Homo sapiens: one gene and its partners. The protein of the gene in region 4 purifies or fractionates together with the protein of the main gene of each other region. This does not show direct contact. Each region holds a gene or a part of one and is shown on either strand. Other genes may lie near its edges.

The links.
Region 1: the proteins of PIP4K2A (region 4) and ACIN1 purify together in Homo sapiens (co-immunoprecipitation; 3 studies listed by BioGRID and IntAct, with this or other methods). This does not show direct contact.
Region 2: the proteins of PIP4K2A (region 4) and DNAJC13 purify together in Homo sapiens (co-immunoprecipitation; 3 studies listed by BioGRID and IntAct, with this or other methods). This does not show direct contact.
Region 3: the proteins of PIP4K2A (region 4) and UBE2H purify together in Homo sapiens (affinity purification with mass spectrometry; 3 studies listed by BioGRID and IntAct, with this or other methods). This does not show direct contact.
Region 5: the proteins of PIP4K2A (region 4) and ARK2N purify together in Homo sapiens (co-immunoprecipitation; 3 studies listed by BioGRID and IntAct, with this or other methods). This does not show direct contact.
Region 6: the proteins of PIP4K2A (region 4) and SBF1 purify together in Homo sapiens (co-immunoprecipitation; 3 studies listed by BioGRID and IntAct, with this or other methods). This does not show direct contact.
Region 7: the proteins of PIP4K2A (region 4) and CLASRP purify together in Homo sapiens (co-immunoprecipitation; 3 studies listed by BioGRID and IntAct, with this or other methods). This does not show direct contact.

The regions. Positions count from the first base shown.
Region 1 is NC_000014.9:23,085,137-23,088,636, reverse strand, and holds part of ACIN1 (apoptotic chromatin condensation inducer in the nucleus), read left to right. Parts: intron 1-3,500.
Region 2 is NC_000003.12:132,455,502-132,459,001, forward strand, and holds part of DNAJC13 (dnaJ homolog subfamily C member 13), read left to right. Parts: intron 1-733; coding exon 734-900; intron 901-999; coding exon 1,000-1,079; intron 1,080-1,161; coding exon 1,162-1,331; intron 1,332-1,767; coding exon 1,768-1,867; intron 1,868-3,500.
Region 3 is NC_000007.14:129,837,961-129,841,460, reverse strand, and holds part of UBE2H (ubiquitin-conjugating enzyme E2 H), read left to right. Parts: intron 1-2,125; coding exon 2,126-2,254; intron 2,255-3,500. UniProt on the Homo sapiens protein: Accepts ubiquitin from the E1 complex and catalyzes its covalent attachment to other proteins. E2 ubiquitin conjugating enzyme that transfers ubiquitin to MAEA, a core component of the CTLH E3 ubiquitin-protein ligase complex.
Region 4 is NC_000010.11:22,610,079-22,613,578, reverse strand, and holds part of PIP4K2A (phosphatidylinositol 5-phosphate 4-kinase type-2 alpha), read left to right. Parts: intron 1-3,500. UniProt on the Homo sapiens protein: Catalyzes the phosphorylation of phosphatidylinositol 5-phosphate (PtdIns5P) on the fourth hydroxyl of the myo-inositol ring, to form phosphatidylinositol 4,5-bisphosphate (PtdIns(4,5)P2). Has both ATP- and GTP-dependent kinase activities.
Region 5 is NC_000018.10:46,261,034-46,264,262, forward strand, and holds part of ARK2N (protein ARK2N), read left to right. Parts: intron 1-1,895; coding exon 1,896-2,085; 3' UTR 2,086-3,229. UniProt on the Homo sapiens protein: AMPK substrate important for exercise capacity and skeletal muscle function.
Region 6 is NC_000022.11:50,468,536-50,472,035, reverse strand, and holds part of SBF1 (myotubularin-related protein 5), read left to right. Parts: intron 1-3,500. UniProt on the Homo sapiens protein: Acts as an adapter for the phosphatase MTMR2 to regulate MTMR2 catalytic activity and subcellular location. Promotes the exchange of GDP to GTP, converting inactive GDP-bound Rab proteins into their active GTP-bound form.
Region 7 is NC_000019.10:45,063,045-45,066,544, reverse strand, and holds part of CLASRP (CLK4-associating serine/arginine rich protein), read right to left. Parts: intron 2,534-3,500; coding exon 2,318-2,533; intron 2,203-2,317; coding exon 1,915-2,202; intron 1-1,914. UniProt on the Homo sapiens protein: Probably functions as an alternative splicing regulator. May regulate the mRNA splicing of genes such as CLK1. May act by regulating members of the CLK kinase family.

The DNA of each region.
Region 1 (3,500 bases), on a different chromosome or scaffold from region 4:
CACCATAATCAGTGTTTTTAGGATGTATGGAGGTTTCCAGCTCTTCTGATTAATACAGAATTCCTTCATGGACTACACTTGATTTTAGTTAAAAGGCTGAGCAGCGATAGACTCTTCATGGAAATAGATTTTTTAGGAGACATTTAATGGTGGGAAAGAAATTTTCCAAAAGGCTAGAGAAAATAGAGAGCCTTTGAGTCTAGTTTTAAGGTCCTGTTTTACTCAGTCCCTGTTTTTCTTGATCCTAGTCTTAGACCCAGAAAGACATTTCTAGAAATCTTTTAGTAAGAAAATACTGGCCAATACTTTGGAATTATTAAGTTCCTTAGGGACCTCTTTTCTCCTGAAATACGAGAGTAGTAGACCCTCAGCTGATCCACTTTGCTCCCTGCGCCCTTTCCCCCTTGATTTTAAAGCCGAGAGGAAAGAGAAAGCTCTTCTAAAATTGTCGGTATTTCTTCTCACATAAAACAAAAAAAAATTTATTGAATTCCTACTGCATACATATCTCTGTGAGAGTATATTGGGAGTTAGCACAGCATAAAGTCTGTTAGGAAGAGAGAACAATTACACATAAATCGAACAACAGAAGATAGTATGTGACAATGATACAGACATAGGGAACCAAAAGAGTGGAAGAGCTCTGAGGACTACAGTGATTAGAGAAAGCCTCATAAGGAGATACAGGATTTGAGCTGAGCCTTAGAAATGGTTTGGCAGAGAGGATACAAGAAGATATTTTTAGGAAGGAACAAAGTCAGAGAGATAGGAATGAAAATGGTATTTTTAAAGGAGAGGTAGTAGACTAATCTAGCCAGAGTAGAGTATTTCACATTCAAGAATAGTCAGCAAAACAATTTAAAAGGTAGATGAGGGTGATACACAGAGGGCTTTAAATGCCAGGCCAGTAAGTATGAGGGTTTTTTTTTTAGTTCTATAGGTAATGGGGGAACCATTGAAAATTCTTAATAGGACCATGATTTGATAAGGACCTCTCTTTAAAAAGAGAGGCTGTCAGTTCTTAATATAATTCGAAATGAAAATGAGAAATGATTTCTGAAATAGATTTCAAAAGCAAAGATTTAGAGTAAGGGTAGCCAATCTTTTCAGTGCTTTATGTCATCAGTAAGACCCTGCCCATGGCTAATGATTGATGGAGGAAAAAAAAAACCCCAGACGTTAAAAAAAAAAAAAGGTGAAAAATAAATTGGAAAATATGAATGTGGTAAATTGTAGAGTACTGCTCATAATTGCCGTAAATGCTCTTCAGTGTCCTTTATGCCATAAACTTTTCTACCTCTGATCTTGGCTTAGATAAGAATCCCATTATAGATGTTGTACAAAATTTAGTTAAGGTCCTGAATGGAGTGGCCATTTGGAATTCTATCAGTGCTTAGTTGAATCAGCATTAACCCTAGTGTTTGTCCAGAAATCAGATTCTTCCAGGTATAGAATCTCAGTCTGCCATATGCCAGTATGCCATTGCAATGGCAGCTTATTTGTTGGCTTTGAATGTTTTGGGGTTCTCTCTTGAATAACAATTTTTGATTAAGTTTCCTACTAACATTTTTCTAAACGCTACTGGCACCTGAGGGAGATTTTTTATTTGTTTTAATATTACTATGTTTAAGAATATGGATTCCTGGCCCCTACCCAAAGAATCTCAAGGAATGGGAGTCCTGGGGCTCTACATTTTTTAAAAAGTCCCTGAGTGGTTCTGTTGACCAATTCATTTTATGAATGACTAACTGAAGGAAGAGTTTTTCAGTGTTATAATTTATCAAGATCTTTGGTTTATATTCCAGCATCCTCCTGTTTATATGCTATTGGCAAAATTCCAAATAGGAAGGAAGAATTGGTTTGTCCAGGTGTGGTGTCTCACACCTGTAATCCTAGCACTATGGGAGGCTGAGGTGGGAGGATCTCCCAGGAGATTGGCCTGAGCAACATAGTGAGTCCTATCTGTACAAAAAAATAGAAAACATTAGCTGACTGTGATGGCACATGCCTGTAGTCCCAGCTACTCGGGAGGCTGAGGTGGGAAGATTGCTTGGGCCCTAGCAGTCAAGGTGGCAGACAACAGAGTGAAACCATGTCTCAAAGAAATAATTGGTTTATAAAATCCTGTCTGACTTTCCCTCTTATGTCTCCATCACTTTCTTCAGATATTTCTAAGGTGTTAGGACTCATTATCCACCTACCATAGTCATAAATTGTCTGAATTTCCTTCTATATCATGACTGTGTGTACAGAAATTCTTACCGTCCTTAATTTTTTCAAAAAGAGCTCAAACTAAGAAAATACATTTTTAAATGCATATTCAGAATATTGATTCTTTAACAAAGGTGATTTTAGCCAGCCTTTGGCTTATAGAGTATGCCCCTCATTCCGTTTTCTCCATATTAAAACCTGGATGCGGAAATTCTAGAGAAATGCTAGGTAACTTACTTACAGGTCTAACATGAGTCAGATTTAGGTTTGGCATTGTTTCCAGGTCTGTATTCTCTTCATTCCTGCTTCTTATTCACACCTAAGGTTACCTTTTAGCCACAGGCTTTTCTTCGATCTCTGGCTTCCTTACTTTGGTCCCACAAATCCTACCCAGGAATTTGTTTTCTAGGATGAAGAACTATTTCCTCTATAACCCTTAAACATTCTGCACTTTAATATATCCTGCATTGTCTAGCAACTGCCTTTTCCTTTCTGTGAAGCCTTCTGGCTTTGGACTCTTGGAAATCTAATATTTACCCTGACTTGTTTTTCGAATCCTGAAATGTATTTATTAGCCTGTTATCAGTATCAGCTCCACCCTTAGCTAAAGCGCTCACTGTCTACACGTGTTACTAACATCTGGCCTAAGACATTCATTGTGGCCATGTTCTTATAATAGAAGATATCACCTTTTTCAGAAGTTTGTCTGCATCACATCAGCTCTTTCCAAGGAACTAGAGATTCCTCATCTCTTTATATTTTGCATTGCTGACTAATTTCTTGTTTCATGTCTGAGGCGCCTCCAGTTTCTGCTTTTATTGCAAAACAGTGATGACCAGAACTTTCTGAACAGCCCTGTTCATTTCTCCAGATCTCTTTGATGACTTACTACAAGTTCTTCCAGAGGAGTAATCATCCAGAAATCCTATCACTGCAGTTTTACAGTATCAAAAATAACATTATAATTCAATAAATAGCATATAATTCACAGTAGGTAGATAAAGAGGCTGTTTTGCTTGTACATACTAATTTTAAAATTGCAACTCAGTTATTTGACTTTGTTGTTGTTGTTCTTGTTGTTGTTGTTTTTTGAGATGGAGTCTCGCTCTGTCGCCCAGGCTGGAGTGCAGTGGCGCGATCTCTGCTCACTGCAAGCTCTGCCTTCCAGGTTCACGCCGTTCTCCTGCCTCAGCATCCCAAGTAGCTGGGACTGCAGGCACCCGCCCCCACACCCGACTAATTTTTTTTTTTGTATTTTTAGTAGAGACGGGGTTTCACCATGGTCTTAA
Region 2 (3,500 bases), on a different chromosome or scaffold from region 4:
ATGAAAAGATGCCCACAGAGAGACTTGCACATGAATGTTCGTAATATCATTACTCATAGCCAAAAACAGAAGCAATCCATATCTAGATCAGCCAGTGAATAAACAGACAAAATGTTGCCTGTTCATACAATGGAATACTACTCAGCAATAAAAAAGGACTGACCTAATACATGCAACAACTTGGATGAATCTCAAAAGCCTATGTATGATAAGTAAAATAAGCAAGACACCTAAGACTACATATTCTATAATTCTGTTTTTATGAAGTTTCTTTAAAAAGCAAAACTATAGAGATAGATCAGTGGTTTCCTGGGGCTGGGGAGTGTTCTTTTGCAAATGGGCACAAGGAAATTTTTTGGAGTGATGAAAATATATCAGAACTGATGATGATTATACAGTTGTATAAATTTATTAAAAATTATCAAACTGTACGTTTTAATTGGATGACTTGTGATTTGTCAATTAGAACCGAGTAAAGCTGTTAAAAATAATTTTAAAGGGAGAGAAAGAGAAATTAAAATTAGTGTTTAAGTAACTTGTACAAGGTCATGTAGCAGCACGGTGAAGAGCTAGTATTAGAGCTCTTCCTAAAGCCCCACTGTTTGTGTTTCCCATTGTAACTGTAGTGTGTCCCTGAGCAGATTACCTGCTAAAGGGCCTATGCTTCATGCTAGATCAAAATTCCCCTTAATCATCAATGCTAAAACCTTTTTTTACTTTTAATCTTACTTAGAGATTCCTTATTAGCAAGTTTGCTGGATGGAGTAAGAGCCTCTGGTAATAGAGATGTTTGTGTAAAAATGACACCAACCCATAAAGGTCAGCGATGGGGGTTACTCAGCATGCCTGTTGATGAGGAAGTAGAGAGCCTTCACCTCAGGTTCTTAGCTACGCCTCCAAGTAAGTATTGATTTAAATGTAATTACATTTCCACTCATCTACTTAATTTAAGAATTAGGAATTCGTATCTTCTTTTTGAACCTCTTAATCTCTTTACAGATGGCAACTTTGCAGATGCTGTATTCAGGTTCAATGCTAATATTTCATACAGTGGAGTCCTACATGCAGTAACACAAGATGTAAGCTAAGTTTTATCATAATTGTTCATTGTTACTAACTTTTGGTATGGAAACTTTTTTGAAATACTCTTTCTTCACCTAGGGTCTCTTCTCAGAAAACAAAGAAAAACTGATCAATAATGCCATAACAGCATTACTGTCCCAAGAAGGGGATGTCGTTGCTTCAAATGCGGAACTTGAGAGTCAGTTCCAGGCTGTGAGGAGGCTTGTGGCATCCAAAGCTGGTTTCCTGGCTTTCACTCAGCTTCCAAAGTAAGTTGTCTTCTGAAACTTAACTTCTCTTAGAGAATTTGAACTACTCAAAATGGCAAATAATGAACGATTCACCTCCTTTTCCTTGACTAAACCAGATACCTTTTATAGGGTGATATGGTACTTTATTCATGAGAAATGAAAAAGGAAGGTGAGGGCAGCAGAAGCGGAATATTGGTCCCATACTCACCAGTAATATAACTGACTCTTGAATTTGAATGGGAAATTACATGCCTTTTAGTTTTAGTTAACCCTAAAAAATATTTTCCCTCTCAAAGAAAAAACTATTATGAAGACTGATAAATTTCAGAGGTGGAATTTAAAATACGTCATTGTTCCAGTAGTGCAATGGAAAGTTAATATGATCTATTTCAATAATATAACAATTTAAAATGTTCTGGTATTGCTAGTATATGCTTGTTTTTTGTTCCAAAAGGTTTCGCGAGCGTCTAGGGGTGAAGGTAGTAAAAGCACTCAAAAGAAGCAACAACGGAATAATCCATGCAGCAGTTGATATGCTTTGTGCCCTTATGTGTGTAAGTAGTAGTTTTCTTAAGGAAACTGGTTTTTCTTAAGTTGACTGGTGGTTTTGATTTCCACAGTCCCAGATTTTCATTGTACCAATAAGTTCTTGTTTCTGTTTCATAAATTGTTCTCATAGTTACTCAAACCTTTGTTTAGCATATCCTAAATACCAGGCAATGTGCTGTGTGCCAGAAATTCAAAGATCTTAAGACAGAAGTTCTTTTCTTCCTCACTTTGTTGACAGTCTGGTAAGGTAGGCATATCTGTACAAGGTAAGGTAGTAGGGGCCATAGGATCTTGAAAAGCAGCACTTTATTTTTGTTTGGTGATGAGGGGAAGATGAAAGATTCTCACCCAGTCTTTCTGGAAGATGTTACATTTGATCTGAATCTTGAAGGACAGGCAGGAATTTTCTAGCTCTGGAAAGGCCTTCCTGGGTGGGGAATAGCATATAAAAAGGCATGTTTGGAAAGCAACAAATAATTAAATATGGTTGGGTTATAAGGTATGGATGGGGGGTAATTAGGAGTTGCAGCTAGAGATGTATGCAGACAGTAATAAAAAACCTTCTGTATCAGGAGGGAGGAGCTAGATTTTTATCTTTTTGTAAGGAACACCTGAAGGATTTTTTTTAGCAAGAGAGCAGTAATGTGATCAGGTTTGAGTTTTTAAAAACCCACACTGGTAGTATGTGGAGAATAGAAGTAAAATTAGAGGCAGGTAGACCAAATTGTCACGTAAGAAATGAGTTGCTGAGCTAGGGTAGTCACAGGGCTAAAGAAGCAGCACACCTGAAAGCTGTTTGCGCAGTAAAGATCTAACTTAGTGGCAGCTTGTACAGAGGGAGAAACAATTGTTTAGTACAGTTTTGAAGTTTCTGATTATCTCAGTTTTGTGTGTAGTACCTGGGACTTTTCCTTATATAAAGTGTTTTAGGCAAGCTTAGTCGTACATAAACATAAGTAAATACTTCTGTAAAACCTTGCATTCCCAAAAGCAAATTAATTTTATTTACTGTTCCAAACAAGTAGTGAGATAACTAGAACTTAACAATGATATGGAGAGTTGCTTTATTCGAACAAAAGATGTTCCTATTACCCAGGAAATTCTAATGGTAGAGAGCTTTGTGTCAGGCTCCCCTATCAGGAAATTGCAAAGTTCTTAGGAGCTCTGTGTCAGGAACCAGGGTAAAAGACTGTTGCAACAAAAGATTCTGCTAGTGCCCCTGTCTGCAAGGGTTTTAGGTGCTCTATGTCAGGAGCCAAGGATGGAGACCAATGTATATATTTTTTAATATTTCATGTATTCTCCCTGCTCAGAATTCTTTCCCTGCTTATTCATTAAGAGCTCAAGTCAGCTTTTAAATGAAGCTTACCAAATATACACACCTACTATGTACCCACAACAATTAAAATAAAATTTTAAAAATAAATGGAGCTTTCTTATTCCTGAAGGTGGTAGTGATGTATCCCTCCCTGAAGTGAGATTACCCTTCATAAATATTACACTTGTCTTTCTTAGCAATTTCTTCTTTGAATTATTGCTATTTCTAAACATGATGTATTTTTCTCAATCTGTCAGCTTCCTGAGGATAATATTCATGTTTAATTTTAATTTTTATCCTTAACAGGCCTTGTCAAGCTG
Region 3 (3,500 bases), on a different chromosome or scaffold from region 4:
TTGGTTTAGGTGAGCACATATAAAACATTTTTATCACTGCAGAAAGTTCGGTTGAGTAACACAGCTCTAGATTAGTCTCTAACTGCTCAGCTTCTTAACCTTACAGTGATAAGAGCCACCTCTTATAGGTAAGATTTTCTAGAGCAAAGTTGGGCAGACCTTGGGTACTTGTTTTTGTATATGTAGTTTTATAGGAATACAGCCACATCGATTTGTTGACCTATACTTTGGCTGCTTTTGTGTTACAGTGGCAGAGCTGAGTTTTGAGTAGTTATGACAGAGACCATATGTGGCCTGCAAAGCCTAAAAGTATTTGACCCTTTACAAAAAGGTTTGCCTACCGCTTTTATCTAGATCAGGGTTTCTTAACCTCAGCACTGCTGACATTTTGGTCTAGATAATCCTTTGTTGTGGGGCTGTCCTGTGCATTGTGGTGTTTAGCAGCTTCCCTGGCCTTCACCCACCGGATGCCAGTAGCACCGCTTAGATATGACAACCAAAAATGTCTCTAGACATTGCCAAATTCCATGGGGAGCAAAATCACCCTTGGCTGAGAACCACAAATCTCAAGCAATGTGGCTTGGCAAAGCATTCATCTGTAATACTGCAAAGGAGCGCCCATTGTTAAAAGCAAAATTGGTTGAAAGAGCTGACTAAATTAATGAGTAGTTTTTTATGCTACTTAGTATACTTCAGCATTGTCTCCAGAAACAGGAATGTTTTATATAAAACATGACAAAGCAGCTGGAGTGGGGCAGAGACATGGAAGCATTCTCATGTCCTTCCATTTCTCAGGGGTGCTGCAGTTCACTGAGGAGCAGAGTGTGGAAGTTACAGCATATCTGAGCTATGGGGTGTGTGGGTTGTGTTATACCCAGGTTCTCAGGGCCTGCTTTTCTAAAACGCTGGGTAACTGCAGGTGTTTGTTGTTTGCTAACTGTGTGTAGATATCATCTGTGTATGCCTGGCAAGAAAGGAGTTAATAAATGTCACGTCTATAATCCCAGCACTTGGGGAGGCCAAGATGGAAGGATCTCTTGAGTCCAGGAGTTCAAGACCAGCCTGGGCAGCATAAGGAGACCCTGTCTCTATTTAAAAAAAAAAAAATTAGCTGGGTATGGTGGCACATGCCTATAGTCCAATTTACTTGGAAGACTGAGGCTGGGAGGTTGGCTTGAGCCCAAGAGTTTGAAGTTGCAGTGAGGTATGATCACACCTATGCACTCCAACTTGGGCAACAGAGTGAGATCCTCTCTCAAAAAAAAAACTTTTTTAAATAAATAAATGCAGTAGATTGGTGCTTATCTGTCTTATGAATATTTGTAGTCTTATGTGGTCCATATAGATTCCTATCCTCATTACCCAGAATAATTGAAAAATTGGTTATATTTACCTCCATTAGAAGTTGCAAGAATTGAATTAAATGTCAAGTCCTATAAAATTGTGTTCAAGGCTGAGCGCAGTGGTTCACACCTGTAATCCCAGCACTTTGGAAGGCCAAGGCTGGCAGGTCACTTGAGGTTAGGAGTTTGAGACCATCCTGACCAACATGGTGAAACCCCGTCTCTACTAAAAATACAAAAATTAGCCAGGCATGGTGGCAGGTGCCTGTAGTGCCAGCTACTTGGGAGGCTGAGGCAGGAGAATCGCTTGAACATGGAGGCAGAGGTTTCAGTGAGTCAGGATTGCACCACTGCACTCCAGCCTGGGCAATAGAGCAAGACTCTGTCTCAAAAAAAAAAACAAACAAAAAAACCCCACAAAAACTGTCTTCAATTCTTTTAAGACCCAGCATCTGAATACCTTTCAGAGTGGGGGGTTTTGTAAGCTGTAGAAAATGGCTGTGTGAAATAGCCATATAAATAGAGTGAAATAGAATTGGGAAAATTGTCCTTCAAAGTGAATGTCAGGTATATCTTTATCTCGTTCTTCAAATTAAAATTAAAATGTTTAAATTGGTATTGAAATGAATGTGTAATACAAGTCACATGTAATAGAGCACACTCGTATGGAGAATCATCCCCGTGTGAATATCTAAGAAGGTAAGCAGCTTGACTACTGAATGCAAGTGAATTTTAGGTGAACTTGCATTTCCCATGTGTGACATGTTTGTTTGGTTTTTCAGATCTTACCAATATATTTGAGTCCTTCCTGCCTCAGTTATTGGCCTATCCTAACCCCATAGATCCTCTCAATGGTGACGCTGCAGCCATGTACCTCCACCGACCAGAAGAATACAAGCAGAAAATTAAAGGTAAGAGGATGGGTAGTTTAACCTGGAGACAAAAGAACTTAAATCTGTTGGGCTTCAGTCATTAAAAGTCCTTCTTAAATTACTTAGTTCCTAATACTTTTTCTTAGGCCTAAAAAGAGACAGCTGTGGGCTGAAGTAGTGCTCACCAACCTCGGGTGGCAGTAGCACCAGTTTGCTCATCCTTTGCGATTTAGAATCCTATTTTCCCATCCTTAAAACAGTTTACGTGCTGATGGGATATGAGTTTCATTTAAATGAAGATAAGTTTGCGACTGGCCGTGGTGGCTCACGCCTGTAATCCCAGCACTTTGGTAGCCCGAGGCAGGCGGATCACAAGGTCAGGAGATCGAGACCAGCCTGGCCAACATGGTGAAACCCCATCTCTACTAAAAATACAAAAATTAGCCTGGTGTGGTGGCACGCGCCTGTAGTCCCAGCTACTCGGGAGGCTGAGGCAAGAGAATCGCCTGAACCAGGAAGCAGAGGTTGCAGTGAGCCTAGACTGTGCCATTGTACTCCAGCCTGGGTGACAGAGCAAGATTCTGTCTTTAAAAAAGAAAAAAAATCTAAAGCTCCACCTGGGTTCATTGGATTTTCCATTTTACCTCTGTGTATGTTTCAGAACTTTCATAGTGAAAAGTCTAGATACATGAAGCTCCACCAAGAAGCAAAGGAATTCAAAGTTTGTGAAATATACCTGCTGCTTTTAACCAATGGCAGGCATTAGTATCTAGCCAGTTTTTCACATGATGGGCCTATCTGCATAGCAGTCCAGAATGTTTGCTTCCTCAAAATGTGTGGCCTCTCTGAGGTACATTTGCAAGAGGTGGCAGTAGAAGTAATTTACCAGAGCTTGAATGTGCAGGTCTTCACTCTGAAATGTGCAGGTATGAGGCAAACAGGGACTATTCATGAAACAATAGCTTTTCTTCTATTTGTTTTCTAATTCTTCTTCCAAGGTCTCTATAGGGTATTGTTTGGAGCTGTTGTTGAGATAAAGCAGAAATAAATTTACTATAATTAATTAGATCTCAAGTGCTTTGCAAATTAATATCTAATTTATGTAGCAAAATATATAGCTAAGCAAACATGTATTTGAAGAAAAAGGCAGTCAGTTTCAGCCAGATAAAGTGCTGTTATGAGACTATATTAAAATTTTGACATAGGAATCACTTAGCAATGTCTGCAAACCACAGATATCTTGGAGCAGAGTATATTTCTCTAGTTCACATATGCATTCTGTCTC
Region 4 (3,500 bases):
CACTCTTAGCAGGTGGCCATGGCCCTAATCCCCAGAGAAAATAGGAGCCAGTGGTCGGGAGCCCCATCTTCCCTCCATCAGTTCTGCTCCCTCCCCATGACACCTATCTCTTTTCCCTCCTGTGAACAGGAAAGTCGCTTCCCTCCTCAGAGCCTCTCCTTCCTGCATGCCTGAATCCCATCCCCTCCCACTTTCTCGAGAAGTGCTACGGAATGTCCCTTCTCTGTCAGGTCCTCCCTCTGTCCCTCATCCCTCTTCATCTCGCTCCTGTCCTTCCCTGCCAGGCTCCTTAGAAATCAGCCCTGTGCAGTGCCAGCATTTCCTTAACTCAACTTAGTCTGGGTTCCATTGCTACACTCCACCGAAACAACTCTGCCAAGGTTGCCAAGGACCTCCTGTGCCGTTCAATCTGGCTGACATTTCCCAGTCCCTGCCTTCTCAAAAGCATCATGATCATCCCATAGCATGTTTGAACCCCCTTTTCCCTTCACTCCCATTGGGTGGCCCTGTGCTTTTTCACTTCCTGCCTCGATGGCAGTTTTCCCCTTTCTCATCCTCTTCTCCAGGCTTGGAAACATTCCCGTTCTTGAAGACTGCTTCTCCGCCTTCCTCCCCATCACACCGGCCCCTCTCCAGGTTACCTCATCCACTCCTCTGGGGAGCTAATGTCTGATGCACAGATACACACATTTTTATCTCTTGCCCCTGCTGCCCCTGGGAACTTCAGACCCACCTGTCCACGGCCTACCTGACATTGACACTTAGATGTCCCAAGAGCGCATGAAGTTTAACAAGCTCAAAACTGAACTCTTCTCTTAAGATGCATTGTGCCAGTCGTTGGACCCACCAGCTTCCCCCGCATGCATGCAGCATTCCCTCCATCTTTCCCTACATTTCTAGTCTGTCATCATCAAGCCCCATAGATTTCAGCACTTCAGCATGCCGGAGTCTCTCTGCTTCTTTCGTTTCTGCTGCCGCCTCCGCCCTCTGCTGAGCTGCTCTCCTCTGTCTGGTGCAATTCTACAGCAGCCGCTTCCCGGTGCTCCTGGGCCTGTTGTTCATCCCTTTCATGCCACGCACCTTGTCTATTTCTGCACTGTTTTCCCATTAACAGTGTCCCCTCCTCTCTAGGACTCGCCTTCTTCCTGGAAGCCCTGTCCACCTGCCCTCTCCTTTCTCCACGAGCCATTGCTGCCCAGGGAAGCCTCACATGCCTCCCCCATCTGGCCTGGGCCTTTTCCATACTTGCTCGTAGCCCATTGTGCTTCTCCCTCCTGACTCTGTCATTGTTAGAGTTCAACACTTGGGGCAGTTCTTCAGTTAATGTGTCTGCCCCTCTGGACCATAAGCCCCAAGAGGACAAAGACTGGTGTCCGAGCTGTGCCCAGCACAGAGTGGACTCTTAAAGGTTGTGCTGACGCGAGGATGGGTGGGGAAGGAAAATCAATAAGGAAAATTCTCAGTTTACTCATTCCATGTTGGCTGAAGTTTTCATATTTTCTCCACAAAACATGTTCCAGAGCAGGTACCATAAAGCAAAAGGATGCAGAAAGTTTCTGGTTTCCTGTTTCCTGTCTGAGAAGACTCTCTTAAGTGATACTGATTTAAGCAGCCTGAGGAGGCATCAAAGCTTTGGAGGATCTGCTGAACACATCACGCGCATTTAAATAATCAGTGTCTGATCCCACCTCCACGTTGGGTTTCGCTTTCTCTTGTTCCACAAGATATCGAAGTGCTGATTGAGTTGGCATCCAGCTTCATTCGCATTGTGTTTATTATCACAAGACTTGGATTTCCATTATGATTTTCTTTTTCTGTTATTTTTCAAACTTTGATATTCCACTGATAGCATAAGGATACATAAACTTTAATTTTTCATAGATATACTCTGGGAATGACTTAGTATCATAAGATGCTTGAGTAAAGTGAACTGGAGAAGCTATATGACGTTAGATTCCTGTTTTTGTTCAGTGGGTTTGAGAAGCTAGCTGTCAGCTGTCACTATCATTCCTCTGTTGTGTTTGCCTTTTCTCTCTGGCCACCATTCCTTTCTTCTCTTTGCATTTGGCCTTCTTTAGTTTAACTACAGCGTATCTAGGTATGCTTTGAGTATTCTTACTTATATATTGCTTTGAGTATTCTGCTTTTTTTTGTTTTTTTTTTGTTGTTGTTGTTTGTTTTTTGTTTAACAGACATGGATCCACTCTGTCACCCAGGCTGGAGTGCAGTGGTACAATCACAGCTCACTGCAGCCTTGAAATCCTGGATACAAGTGATCTTCCTTCATCAGCCTCCTAAGTAGCTGGGACTACAGGTGCACACCACCACGCCCAGCTAACTTTTGTTATTTTTTTATTTGTTAGAGACGAATTCTGTTGCCTAGGCTGGTCTCAAAGTCCTGGGCTCAAGCAGTCCTCCTGCCTCAGCCTCCCAAATTGCTGGGATTACATATATGAGCTGCTGTGCCCAACTGTATCTACAGATTTATAACGTGCATTAATTGTGGAAAATTCTGAATCATTATTTTTTCAAATATAATCATCTTTTGTTCATCTTCTATTTCTGTATAATTTCTCACAGCTTAAAAAATTCTATATCTGATCATCTTAGTAACTAAAGTCTTGAAAATATTAATTAGTCGTTGCTGTCTCTGTGAGCTCATGTTTGATTGATCTTCATCTGTGGGAAGCCTGGAGGCCTGGCAGGGGTTGCTCTCCTCCGGAGATCATTTACATTTACTTCCACCAGGTGTTGGGGCCACTTTCAAAGGCTTCCTTCAAGGATCTCAGGTTAACGTTGAAGCCTTTGTTGAGCTCCCAGCTTTCGTTTGGCCCAAGTAAGTGTTGAAACTGGCATTTGTCCTCGGAGTCCCTCCTTTCAGGCTTGCTTAATGGTCCCCACACTCCCTGTGGATTAAACTCACTTTGGGGGAAGAAAGGTGTCTTGGAGATTGCCTCTACTGTCTGTGAACCCAGCAATGTGATTAAAAAAAACAAATAGCTCTATCAAGCAGCTCATTCTTTTGTTGTTTGCTTGTTTTGTTTTTGTAACTGAGAATCCTTCAGCGTACCTGCCTTCTATCCTACTGGAAGCATAAATCTTTGACATGGTTTTTATTGCTAGCAACAAGGAAAGTCAACATGCAAAAATAGTTAACGAAGAGAAAGTTCAGGTTTTTCAAAATTGTGTCCAAAGCTGTCCCTTTCATTCACTGGAACTTGATCTTACCCTTTGTCCTTTGGAAACACATCTTTGCTTTTGTTCTTGACTCATGTCCAACCCACCTCCTTCTCTTGTAGTCCTGGGACCACGTGTCTTCTTCCTTCCCTGAATGGAGGTTCTTCTTTTGGTAAATTCATGCCCCACCCCAATCTTTATTTTTAAACTTAGTTCCTGTAAGGGAAGTAAAGAGCACACAGATGAGTTCAATATATAAATCACGTCCATTAATCCAACAAATATTTACGTGAAAAATTTAAAAGCTTTCTTTCTCAGATAAC
Region 5 (3,229 bases), on a different chromosome or scaffold from region 4:
TGCCAAAGATTACATTGACTCTCTTTGCCACTCGTTGCCTGAATTCTTACCAGGTTTCTAGCCAGCTTTACTTCAATTAGTGCTTATACAGGTGAGCTTTTGAATTGTCAAGTAACTTTATACTTCTAAATTGTTAGTTTGGGTCTATTTTTGTACTCTGATGATTCTTGTTGTGTTTTGCTGCACCCGATTTAATACACACATCTGTAAAGCAACAACATGATATGGAAAGCATTGGACCCAAAATCAGACCTGTCTTCCTTGGCCTATCACTTTCAAGCATTGTGACTCTGAGCAAATCATGTAACCTGTTTAAGCCTCAGTTTCCCTCTCTGTAGAGTGAGGATAGTAAATTCCATGCTTACCTCATAGGTCTGTCAGAATTGTCCAATGAGATAATATATGTGAAACTGCTTAGTAAAGGTAGTGTTCCGTTGGCCTTCAGTCATCAAAACCATTTCTATAAATGTTGAATGGACTCCTTTGGCTGACATTTTTCCATGACTACATGGTCACTTAATATGAATTTATATAATGGGTTGAACAGATGTGAATTAGACATTGGGCTTTATGTCCCTTATTTTAATGTCCCTATTTATTTCTCTAGCTAATCTTTGAAAAGGTAGTAGCCTCTGGGTTAGTAACTACATAGCCCATCTCTGGACAGATGACGGGCTTCTGGTACTGTAGCAAATTTGCGTTCTGCCCTCTGCTCTGGCCCTGAGAGATCTGTTCTTAGGAATTTTTCTTAGTAAGGGAGAAGTTATCAGATTAAGCCTTTGTAGGAGTAGGGCATGTTTGCAGGAGTTTAAGGGTCCTTGGGGCAGTTTTGCAACTGAATCGTGTCCATTGTTACCCTAATGTTCTTTTGAATCTGGTGGTGTAGGTAGCATTAAACCAAAGCTGAAATTCTCAAGTGGCCCAGCATTATTTGTTGCTTACAGATTGTCAAACAGCTGCTCAGGAGCCACTGTGGTAGTTTAGTGACTAGACTCATGCCACTTGTTACTTCTCACATAAGCTACCTGAGGGCTGGTCAGGAAGTTTAGATGAGAGGACATAGCATTGATCACATGAGTTGCCTGCCTTCCTCTCATTTGAGTCAGAACTTAGTGTTTTGGCCTGGAGGTTCACAATTCTATCATTTGACTGGACTGTGGAATTCAAACTGTCAGTGTTTCTGAAACAATTTTATTTCAGTGAACTCTTGGTGTGACTTGCTAACAAGGCAGTTCTCTCCCTCCGATAGAACCCTTTTAGTGGATCTAAACTGAAGATTCAGCTGTGTTACTTTCACGGAACCAAATTATAAGCGATTCTGTTGAATGAACCAAGTGCTTCTGTTGTGACCTTCAGGACAAGGGAAATTGATCCTTTATTCATGATCTATTACTTACAGACTTTTAGAAATTTAATCTGTGAAAGGGTATTACTGTCACTGTCTTTGAAGGCATTATTACCAATTATAAAGCTTATTTTAAGAACAAGTTTTAACTATTTTTCTTACTGTTTGATTTGTTCAGACTAAGATTGTTTGGGCATCTTAACTTTGTTCTGGATTTATGTGTTGCCCTATCATGAAGATCCCAGAGGTGTAAATGAGTCCAGAGAAACATCCTGTCACCCATGGTCAGTGACACAACTCAGGAGTTTCTGGCTGAGATAAGACCCTTGGCCTTTTTAAGGCTAAACTGAGAGAGGGACCAAGTGGGGTGTGGTGGGGTAGGGAGAGAGGGAGACAGAGATGGAGGGAAGGATATTGATTGTGGGTTTTATGAACTTGCATACTAGGTTTATCTTAGTAAAAATGTTGATAAGTACAACTGAGGTCATATTGTCTTCTGTTTTTCCTGTGGTGGAATTAACCATGCTTTTGTTCTTCATCTCAATTGCAGGTGTGTTCATCCTCGAGGTGGTGTGATTCAGAGTGTTTCTTCATGGAAGCATGGCTCGGGCACGCAGTATGTTAGCACCAGGCAAACACAGTCATGGACTGCTGTGACTCCCCAGCAGACTTGGGCTTCACCAGCAGAAGTTGTTGACCTTACCTTGGATGAGGATAGCAGGCGTAAATACCTACTGTAATACAATGTCACTGTGTTTCCTCTGCACTGTTCCCTTCCACTTCCTCATCCTCTTTGTGACATGGAAGTTCATTGTCATAGCTTCAGCTTCAGAAGCTGTTTGTGGCATTTGTAGGATTCAAACTCATGGAAAATTCCCTCCTCTTCCCCCCTTTTTTTAATTAAAAGAAGTCACTTAGGAAAATAACATCACAGAGAAAAGAATTTCTTCTTTCCCTCAGTAGGAATATAGAATGATGAATTTTATTAGACAACTTTATTTTACTTGGTGACTTTTAATCTTAGGAAACTCTGCCTTCCTTTTAGAATAATATTTTAATTGCCAGGCAAAATGGGTTTCAGTTTTTGAATCTTGTATTTATTTTTCTGTATAATGAAATTAATATCTAGACTTGACCACTATCTGCCCACCCCATTGGCACTCCCATCTTAGGGCATTCGCACACATATCAGTCAGGTCCTTATTGGCACCTAGTAGGGCATGTGCATTTAAAAACTTGTCCTTAAAAATAGAAGACAGAAGTATTAAAATTATATTTTCTTTTATTTTAAGTCTTCTGCCTTCTTTCTTGAGTTTGCTCCTGTTGACTTCCCACAGCACAGATAATTGACATGTCCCTTTGTGTTTATAAATACTACTAAGGTGACCTAGTTGTTCTCCTTGTTGCAATAATTAATAACTCTTTGCAAAATGTCTCCTTTGAGACAGAGGCATTTCAGATAGATACCCACCATGAGGTGTTCTGGGCATCTGAAGGTATTAAGAGTTCAGTGGGAAAAATCTCTCTCCCTCGCCTTTTTTTCTGGTTTAGTCAAATAACGGGTGAACATAGAAACCTGTTGGGAAGAATATGAAAAGTTATGTGGCCTCTGAGGCTACAGGCACTTGCAAATCCGAGAGGAAAGTGCCGTCTTTCATAGCTGGTCTCTGTATAAAGAGTATGTAGCAACAACTGTTTAACATCCGAGATGAAGTGGACCTGATGCTGTATTTGGGTATTTTTCTCCTCTACCTTCTAAAAAAAAATACCATAAGAAGAATCAGAATGTACCATAAGAAATCAGATGCAAAGCACGTTAATGTCATTGGTAAGTTTTACAGAGTCTAAAAGGATTAGCAAAGGGTAGCAGGAGCTTCAGGGAAT
Region 6 (3,500 bases), on a different chromosome or scaffold from region 4:
GCTGAGGTGTCTTTGAGAACAGGAGACACATTTGATCTGGCCCTGACCTGGCCATCGGCCTTCCATCTCCAGCAGCTGAGTGTGCATCTGCCTGGGAGGAGGGGCTGGACCCCTTGGATCTGAGAAAAAGACCTTTCACCCTATGGCCTCGCCTCTCCTCCTGACTGTGATGTGCTGGCTGCATTCTTGAGCCCCATCTACTGTCCCCACCCACGTTCCTGCCCTCCCTCTGGAGCGGGTTGGGGCTGTTTGGGATGGCCTCAACTGCCTCCCAGCCTCCACCCTGGGAGCCGGAAGGGGTCCAAGGCCTTGGGTCAGAACTGCTCAGGTCTGATGGGCAGGGGAGGTTGGGGGGGATGGCTGTGGAAGCTGCAGGGGCCCTGCGCATGGCCTGCTGCTGCGGCCGAGGGAGCCATGTGCACGTTGGGGTTGGGTGGGTGGCGTAGCAGGAAGGTGCTGTCCTTCCTTCTTTTCTCTTTTCCTATAGCTGGGTTCCCCACAAGCAGCAGAGCCGGCCAGGGCTGGTCTTCGTGCACTGTGGGGAGTGTGGTGGGGAAACAGGAGAGGCTGCCATCCTTCTTTGCCTCCCCACAGCACACGCTGGCCTGGGCCAGCCCTCCAGGCGTCAGAGCCTGGCACTGATGATGGGGTGCTGCCAGCAGATGACAGAACGCGAGGTCTGTGTTCGCCTGCCCGCCCGCCCGCCTTTCAGGCCTGCCGTCTGCGTGGGGCTGGCCGCAGGGACATTGGTGCAGGAGGGAGTGCTCTTTGAGGGGCTTTCAGGACAGAAGCCCCAGTGTTGTCCTTAGGTGGCCCCCTCAGCCCCATGTTCAGAGGTGGAGGTGGCAAGGAAACCTTGGTGCCCAGTGCCACCCAGCACACCGTTTGGATTCGTCCTGTTGCCAAGGGGAGGAGTGGGGAGGGCACCCTCCCTCCTGTGTATTCTGAGGTAAAGGCAGCACTCTGATGGGCAAGGAGCTCAGCTGCTGGAGGTCACTCCTATGGCAATAGAGCTTCAGTGGGTGGGGGACCCTGGGAAGATGTGGCAAAACCCCCCACATCCCCCTGGAGGCCAAGATGTGGCCTGGCCCCGGACAGCACAGAGCTGAGGTGCAGGCTGGGACCTCAGAAGGGTGAGGAGGAGAGCTGCTCACAGCTGAGGGCTGCAGGGCCCTCCATGGCCTGCCTTTCCAGGGGCCAGCTGTGTTCTGTCATTCCCTGGGGCTCCGGAAGGTGCCCTGTACTTCCGACTGAGGAACCTGTTTGCTTGTTGGGTGTGGGGAGGATGGTTGTGTAGCCGACTGTACGTGTTCTACAAGCCCTAATTAGCCTGTGGTCCGTCCCAGCCAAGCCAACAGGTGCACTAGCAGTCACTGGGGTGTGGTGGAGGGAGGTCGGTCCTAGGGTCCCTGTAGGCCCCAGGCTGGGGCAGAGTTTCCCAGGGGAGGGGGTGCTCTGTGGGCTGAGACCTGAAGGGCCAGTCTGGGGCTGTCATGGCACAGAGGAGCTCAGGGAGAGGTGCCTGCTTGGCCTGGCCCACTTGGGCCATTGGGCCAGCCCAAGGAGAGTGGAGCTCAGGGCTGGCTCTTTGGAGGGTAGAGCCCTGCAGAGGACTTAAGGCTGAGTGAGAGTTGATGCTTCACAAGACTAGCGGGGGGTGGAGAGGGTCAAGGTAGATGGTGACCTGCCACTCTGCCCATCCTCCTGGGGAAGGCTGCCTTCCCTTCCTGGCCTTGGGGAGGCTGCAGTGCAGAGACTGCTGTCCCTGTTCATAAACCCCTCTTCCTTCCTCCACCTGCTGCCTCGTGGCAAGAACTGGGTGAGCCCTGGGTGCCAGCCAGGGCTGGGCCCAGATGGTGGTTTGGGGCCAAACACAAGGAGGCCTTTGGGGGAGTGGGCGGGGTGGGGGAGGAGCCGCAGCTCAGGGCCTGCGCCTGAGTGAGCTGTCCTTGGGGGTGTGGAGGTAGGTGTGGCACCCGCAGACACCTGGGCCCCCACCCGTCTGCCGCCTGTCCTCTGCAGGGTGTCGGTGGGAGGGGGAGGGGAGCAGGAAGCTGAGGTTTTGTGAGTCAGAATCGGCCCCTCACCGCCCCACCATCTCCCACTTAGCAGCAGCCTGCCCACTGCCGACTTCCTTGGCTCTGCCCCTGTAACCCTGGAGGGCAGATGGTCTCCCCGCCTGTAGGGGACCCGTGGAGTGTGTGCCATTGGGCTGCCAGAGTTGCTCATCTGTTCCCAGGAGGACCAGGCATGCTGGATGTGGGGCTGCAGCTTCTTGGGGGCCGGGGTGGGGGGTCCATGAGGGGCTCTGTGTTGAGCATGACCCCCGCCTTGCCCATCTGGCTCTGCTGCTTCCGCCAGGTGGGTGGCGGTGTAGAGGCCCGTCCAGACAGAGGATGGGCCCTGGGGACCTGCGGTTTGTGTGGAGGAGAAGGCAGGCAGGCTTTCGTCTTTCCTGCTGCACCTGCTCCATCCTCCACAAGCCCTGGGAGGCCTGCGGAGCCGTCCTGCTGCGGGAGCCACACCCTGAGTGTCCCACTGTGGTCCCCACCGGGCTTCCTGGTTTGGCTCTCCAGGGGTGAGCCACAGGCAGGGACCTTTACCCCACCGGTGTGGACTGGGCCTGGAAACAGGGCCCTGGATGTGGTAGTTCTGGGGCCCCACGGAGAGGAGGGGTCTGGTGGGGAGACATAGGCCTCTTGGCTCTCCCTGCCCTGAAAGCCCTCCTCCTGGCCCAGGGGAGCTTAGGCTGTGCTCAGCACCCATCCTATGGCCTTTGTACAGGGAGATTTGGAGACAGGGAGCAGGCCTGGGTGTGACCACCGTCCCACTCTCCTCTGAGAGCTGCTGGGGTCCAGGTGCTCAGGAAGCCATCTGGGCATCCTTCGGTGGTCGTCCTGGACCAAGTCTCCATCCTTCCCGTCTAGCTGCTGCCCCTCTAGGTCCTGCTGGCTGTGGGGCTGGTGTTCTAACAGGGAGCTGCCAAACCCCATCTTCTGGGACCTGTACTGGGGACTTGTCTGTCTCTGAAGCAGCTGGGATAGGGAAGAGTTTGGGGCTGTGGGCGCAGGGGGTGTCCTCTAGCCTTGTGGGGCTGAGGCTTCTTGAACCCCACACAGACAGCAGGTTTGAGTCCTCCACACCCCCGGCTGGGTCCAGGGCTGGTGGGTGACAGGGAGCTCTGGGGGATGCCCACTGTTGGGGGGCCGAGAGCCTAAGTGGGGGCCTGGCGGTGGTGGCAGATGCTGTGGGGGCCTGTGGAACAGTCCCGAAGTGTTGACCTTCGATGGAGGGCTGCTGTGCTGTGTGAAGCTGGGCTGGTCAGGCTGAAGGAGGTCTCTGGGGTGGGATCGGAGAATGGGGTGTAGCGGCAGGGGCTTCTCTACCCTCAGGTGGCCCTGGGGTCTGCAGCTGTCAAGCAGACTCTCCATACGGAGCTATTTTTAGGGAGCTGTGGCTGATCTGGTGCCAGATGAGGGCCCAGTGGGTGGGAATGTTTC
Region 7 (3,500 bases), on a different chromosome or scaffold from region 4:
TTCAAGCAATTCTCCTGCCTCAGCCTCCTGAATAGCTGGGATTACAGATGTGCACAACCACACCCGGCTAATTTTTGAATTGCGTTTTTATAAAATAAAAATTTGTTGTCATTATTAAGAAAACAAGGGCCAGGCGCGGTGGCTCACGCCTGTAATCCCAGCACTTTGGGAGGCAAAGGTGGGTGGATCATGAGGTCAGGAGTTCAAGACCAGCCTGGCCAACACAGTGAAACCCCGTCTCTACTAGAAATACAAAAATTAGCCAGGTGTGGTGGCGCATGCCTGTAATCCCAGCTACTTGGGAGGCTGCGGCGGGAGAATCACTTGAACCCAGGAGGAGGAGGTGCAGTGAGCCGAGATTGTGCCACTGCACTCCAGCCTGAGTGACACAGTGAGACTCTGTCTCAAAAAAAAAAGTAAAGGAAACAAGAGCTATCCTCTAAAAATCCAGACCCTCAACTTCTCCTGAGAACTAGAAAGACTGGGTGACACTAGACCTGCTGCTGAGCGGTCAACGCCCCGACTGGAGGGAACATGTGCTTGCCAGGTCAGCAGGATCTCTACCTGGCCCCTCTACTTTACCTGCCAGACCCTGAAGGCAGCTGACATGGCGATCAGTGCTACAATAACGCAGGTAATGATGCTGACGATATTAACGGCACTTAGCCAGCACCAGCCCTGTCCTAAGCACCTTACATGGGTTTACCTGTTACACCTCTAACAGCTCAGAGAAGCGGATGCTATTACCGCGATTTTACAGAATTAGAGGCCCAGGGACTCTACACTCAGGCAGGTGCCCTGCAGTCTATGCTCCTACCAACCCAGCGTCGCTGCCCTTCCCAGGGCAGCCCTGACCCCAACAGGCAAGGGGACCGGAAGGGGGTGGACCAGTCCCCAGGTGACTTTATTTTCTAAACCATCCCTAGAGCTAGCCTCTCACCATGTCGTCTCCAAAATGAAATGTCTTTTTTTTTTTTTTTTCTTGAGACGCAGTCTCACTCTGTAGCCCAAGCTGGGGTGCAGTGGCACAATCTCGGCTCACTGCAACCTCCGCCTGCGGGGCTGAAACGATTCTCGTGCCTCAGCCTCCTGCATAGCTGGGACTACATGCGCGTGCCACCACGCCCAGCTAATTTTTTTTTTTTTTTTTTTTTTTGAGACGGAATCTCACTCTGTCACCAGGCTAGAGTGCGGTGGCACGATTTCAGCTCATTGCAACCTCTGCTTCCCGGTTTCAAGCGATTCTCCTGCCTCAGCCTCTCAAGTAGCTGGGACTACAGGCGTGTGCCACCACACCCAGCTAATTTTTTTTTCAGTAGAGACGGGGTTTCACCATGTTGCCCAGGGTGGTCTCGAACTCCTGAGCTCAGGAGATCCGCCTGCCTCGGCCTCCCAAAGTGCTGGGATTACAGGTGTGAGCCACCACGCCAGGCCAAAGAGCTGTCTTGATTTTTTCCACCCGCTTCGCTTCCCCATCCGCTCCTGGCCACACAGGAACGCGCCCCTCCCCCTCCGCAAGGGGTTTCCCAGCCCTCAAGGCCCGGACCCGTCCCTTCAAGCTACAGAAAACCCTGGAGCGTCCATGCGCTTTCTACTCCCCTCCACCTGGAACCCCTGACAGCAAAAACAGTCTCCTGAGGAGAGAGAGATGCACAGTCTCCTCTCCACACCCTGTCGTGGAAAACAGCGGCTGGGATCCACCTCCACTGCCACCAGAACGCGCACGCAAACACCCATGCCTTGCCCTTTCCAACCAAGGGCTTCCTGCGGAAGAGCAGTGGCCTGTGCCTGTCCCCTTAGATGGGGTGTTCTCTGAGCTGGACGGCCAGGTTTCCTCCCTCTGAGCACCTTCTCCCCAGGATCGGAGACCGCGCCCCCCCAGCCCCTCCCACCTCCACGCCCAGCCACACACACCTGCTTCTGCGCCGGGGCCCGTAACCACCACGCCGGGCGGGCGAGCGGGAGTACCGGTGTCCGTCTCGGGAGCCCCCACCTGAGTGCCGCCGGCCACGGCTACGGGACCGGGAATAGCGCCGGGAGCGGGAGCGGGAGCGGGACCAGGAGCGGGACCGGGAGCGGGCGTGGCGGCCGGAACGGTAGTAGCCCCCACCACGGCGAGAGCGGGAGCTGGAGCGAGAGCTGGAGCGGGAGCTGGAGGTCCTCGAGGCAGAAGAGGAGGAGGAGGAGGAGGAGGAGCGGCGGCTGCAGGCGGGGCACGGAGGGCCGGTCAGCGCAGGCCTGAGCCGCGGCCCCCCTCTGCCCCGGGTACCCCCCATGGTGACCGGGGCGTAGGGCGGGCGGCGTGAGCGTTACCGACCGGGCGCTGGCATTACGTCCCGGGGCGGGGCCGCCAGGCTGGGGAGGTGCGGGGGGCTTCCCTGTGGTGACTCCTGATGCTGCTGCGGCAGCAGCGGCTGCGGCTGCCTCCTCATCGCTGCCCCCAAAACTGGTGATGAACGTGATCTTCTCCTCGCGGCCCGGGGTCGGGGAGCGGGAGCGGGAGCGGGACTCTGAGCTGGACTCCGAGGGTGACCTGCGGGTAGGGAGGAGGAGGCTCACTAGCTCAGGCTCCCGGAGCCTCTTCGGGAACAGCACACACAGCAGATCAACAGCAGCGCCAGCGCGGGCCACAGCGACCCGGGAAACCAGGCGGGTGGATGGAGCCTGGAGGGCAGTGGAGACCCAGCTCTGGACAAGGACTTGACTCACAACCATGCAGCCTTCGCTAAATAACCAGGAAGGACAATGACACACAACTGCTCTGATTTTATGTGGCTATGAAAAATGGATGAGCAGGCCGGGCGCGGTGGCTCACACCTGTAATCCCAGCACTGTGGGAGGCCGAGGCAGGCCGATCACTTGAGACCAGGAGTTTGAGACCAGCCTGGCCAACAAGGCAAAACCCTGTCTCTACAAAAAATACAAAAAAAATTTGCCGAGCATGGTGGCGCGCACCTGTAATTCCAGCTACTCAGGAGGCTGAGGGCACGAGAACTGCTTGAACCTGGGAGGCAGAGGTTGCAGTGAGTCCAGGTCACGCCACTGCACACCAGCTTGGGCAACAGAGTGAGACTCCGTCTCAAAAAAAAAAAAAAAAAAAAAAAAAAAGATAAGCAGATCTCTGTACAAAACACAGAAAAGTTTTACTCAAAAGATACATGGATAATCTGGGAGGAAAAAGCAAGTTCTAAAACACTGAGTGTGGTGCAATTCTATTTTAGTAAAATAAAAACAAAGTGGCCAGGTGTGATGGCTCATGCCTGTAATCCCAGCACTTTGGAAGGCCCAGGTGGGAGGACTGCTTGAGGCCAGAACTTCAAAACCAGCCTGGTCAACATGGTGAGCCCCATCTCAATATTTTAAAGAAAAAAAAAACAAACGTGTTTTTTAATATATAAAATTTTAAAAATAAAAAGAAAGTATCTGATATTCCTGACACTCCCATGTATGGAGCACTAACCTACACCTTTTATTTCCCCAGAAGCCATTCAACACCTTAT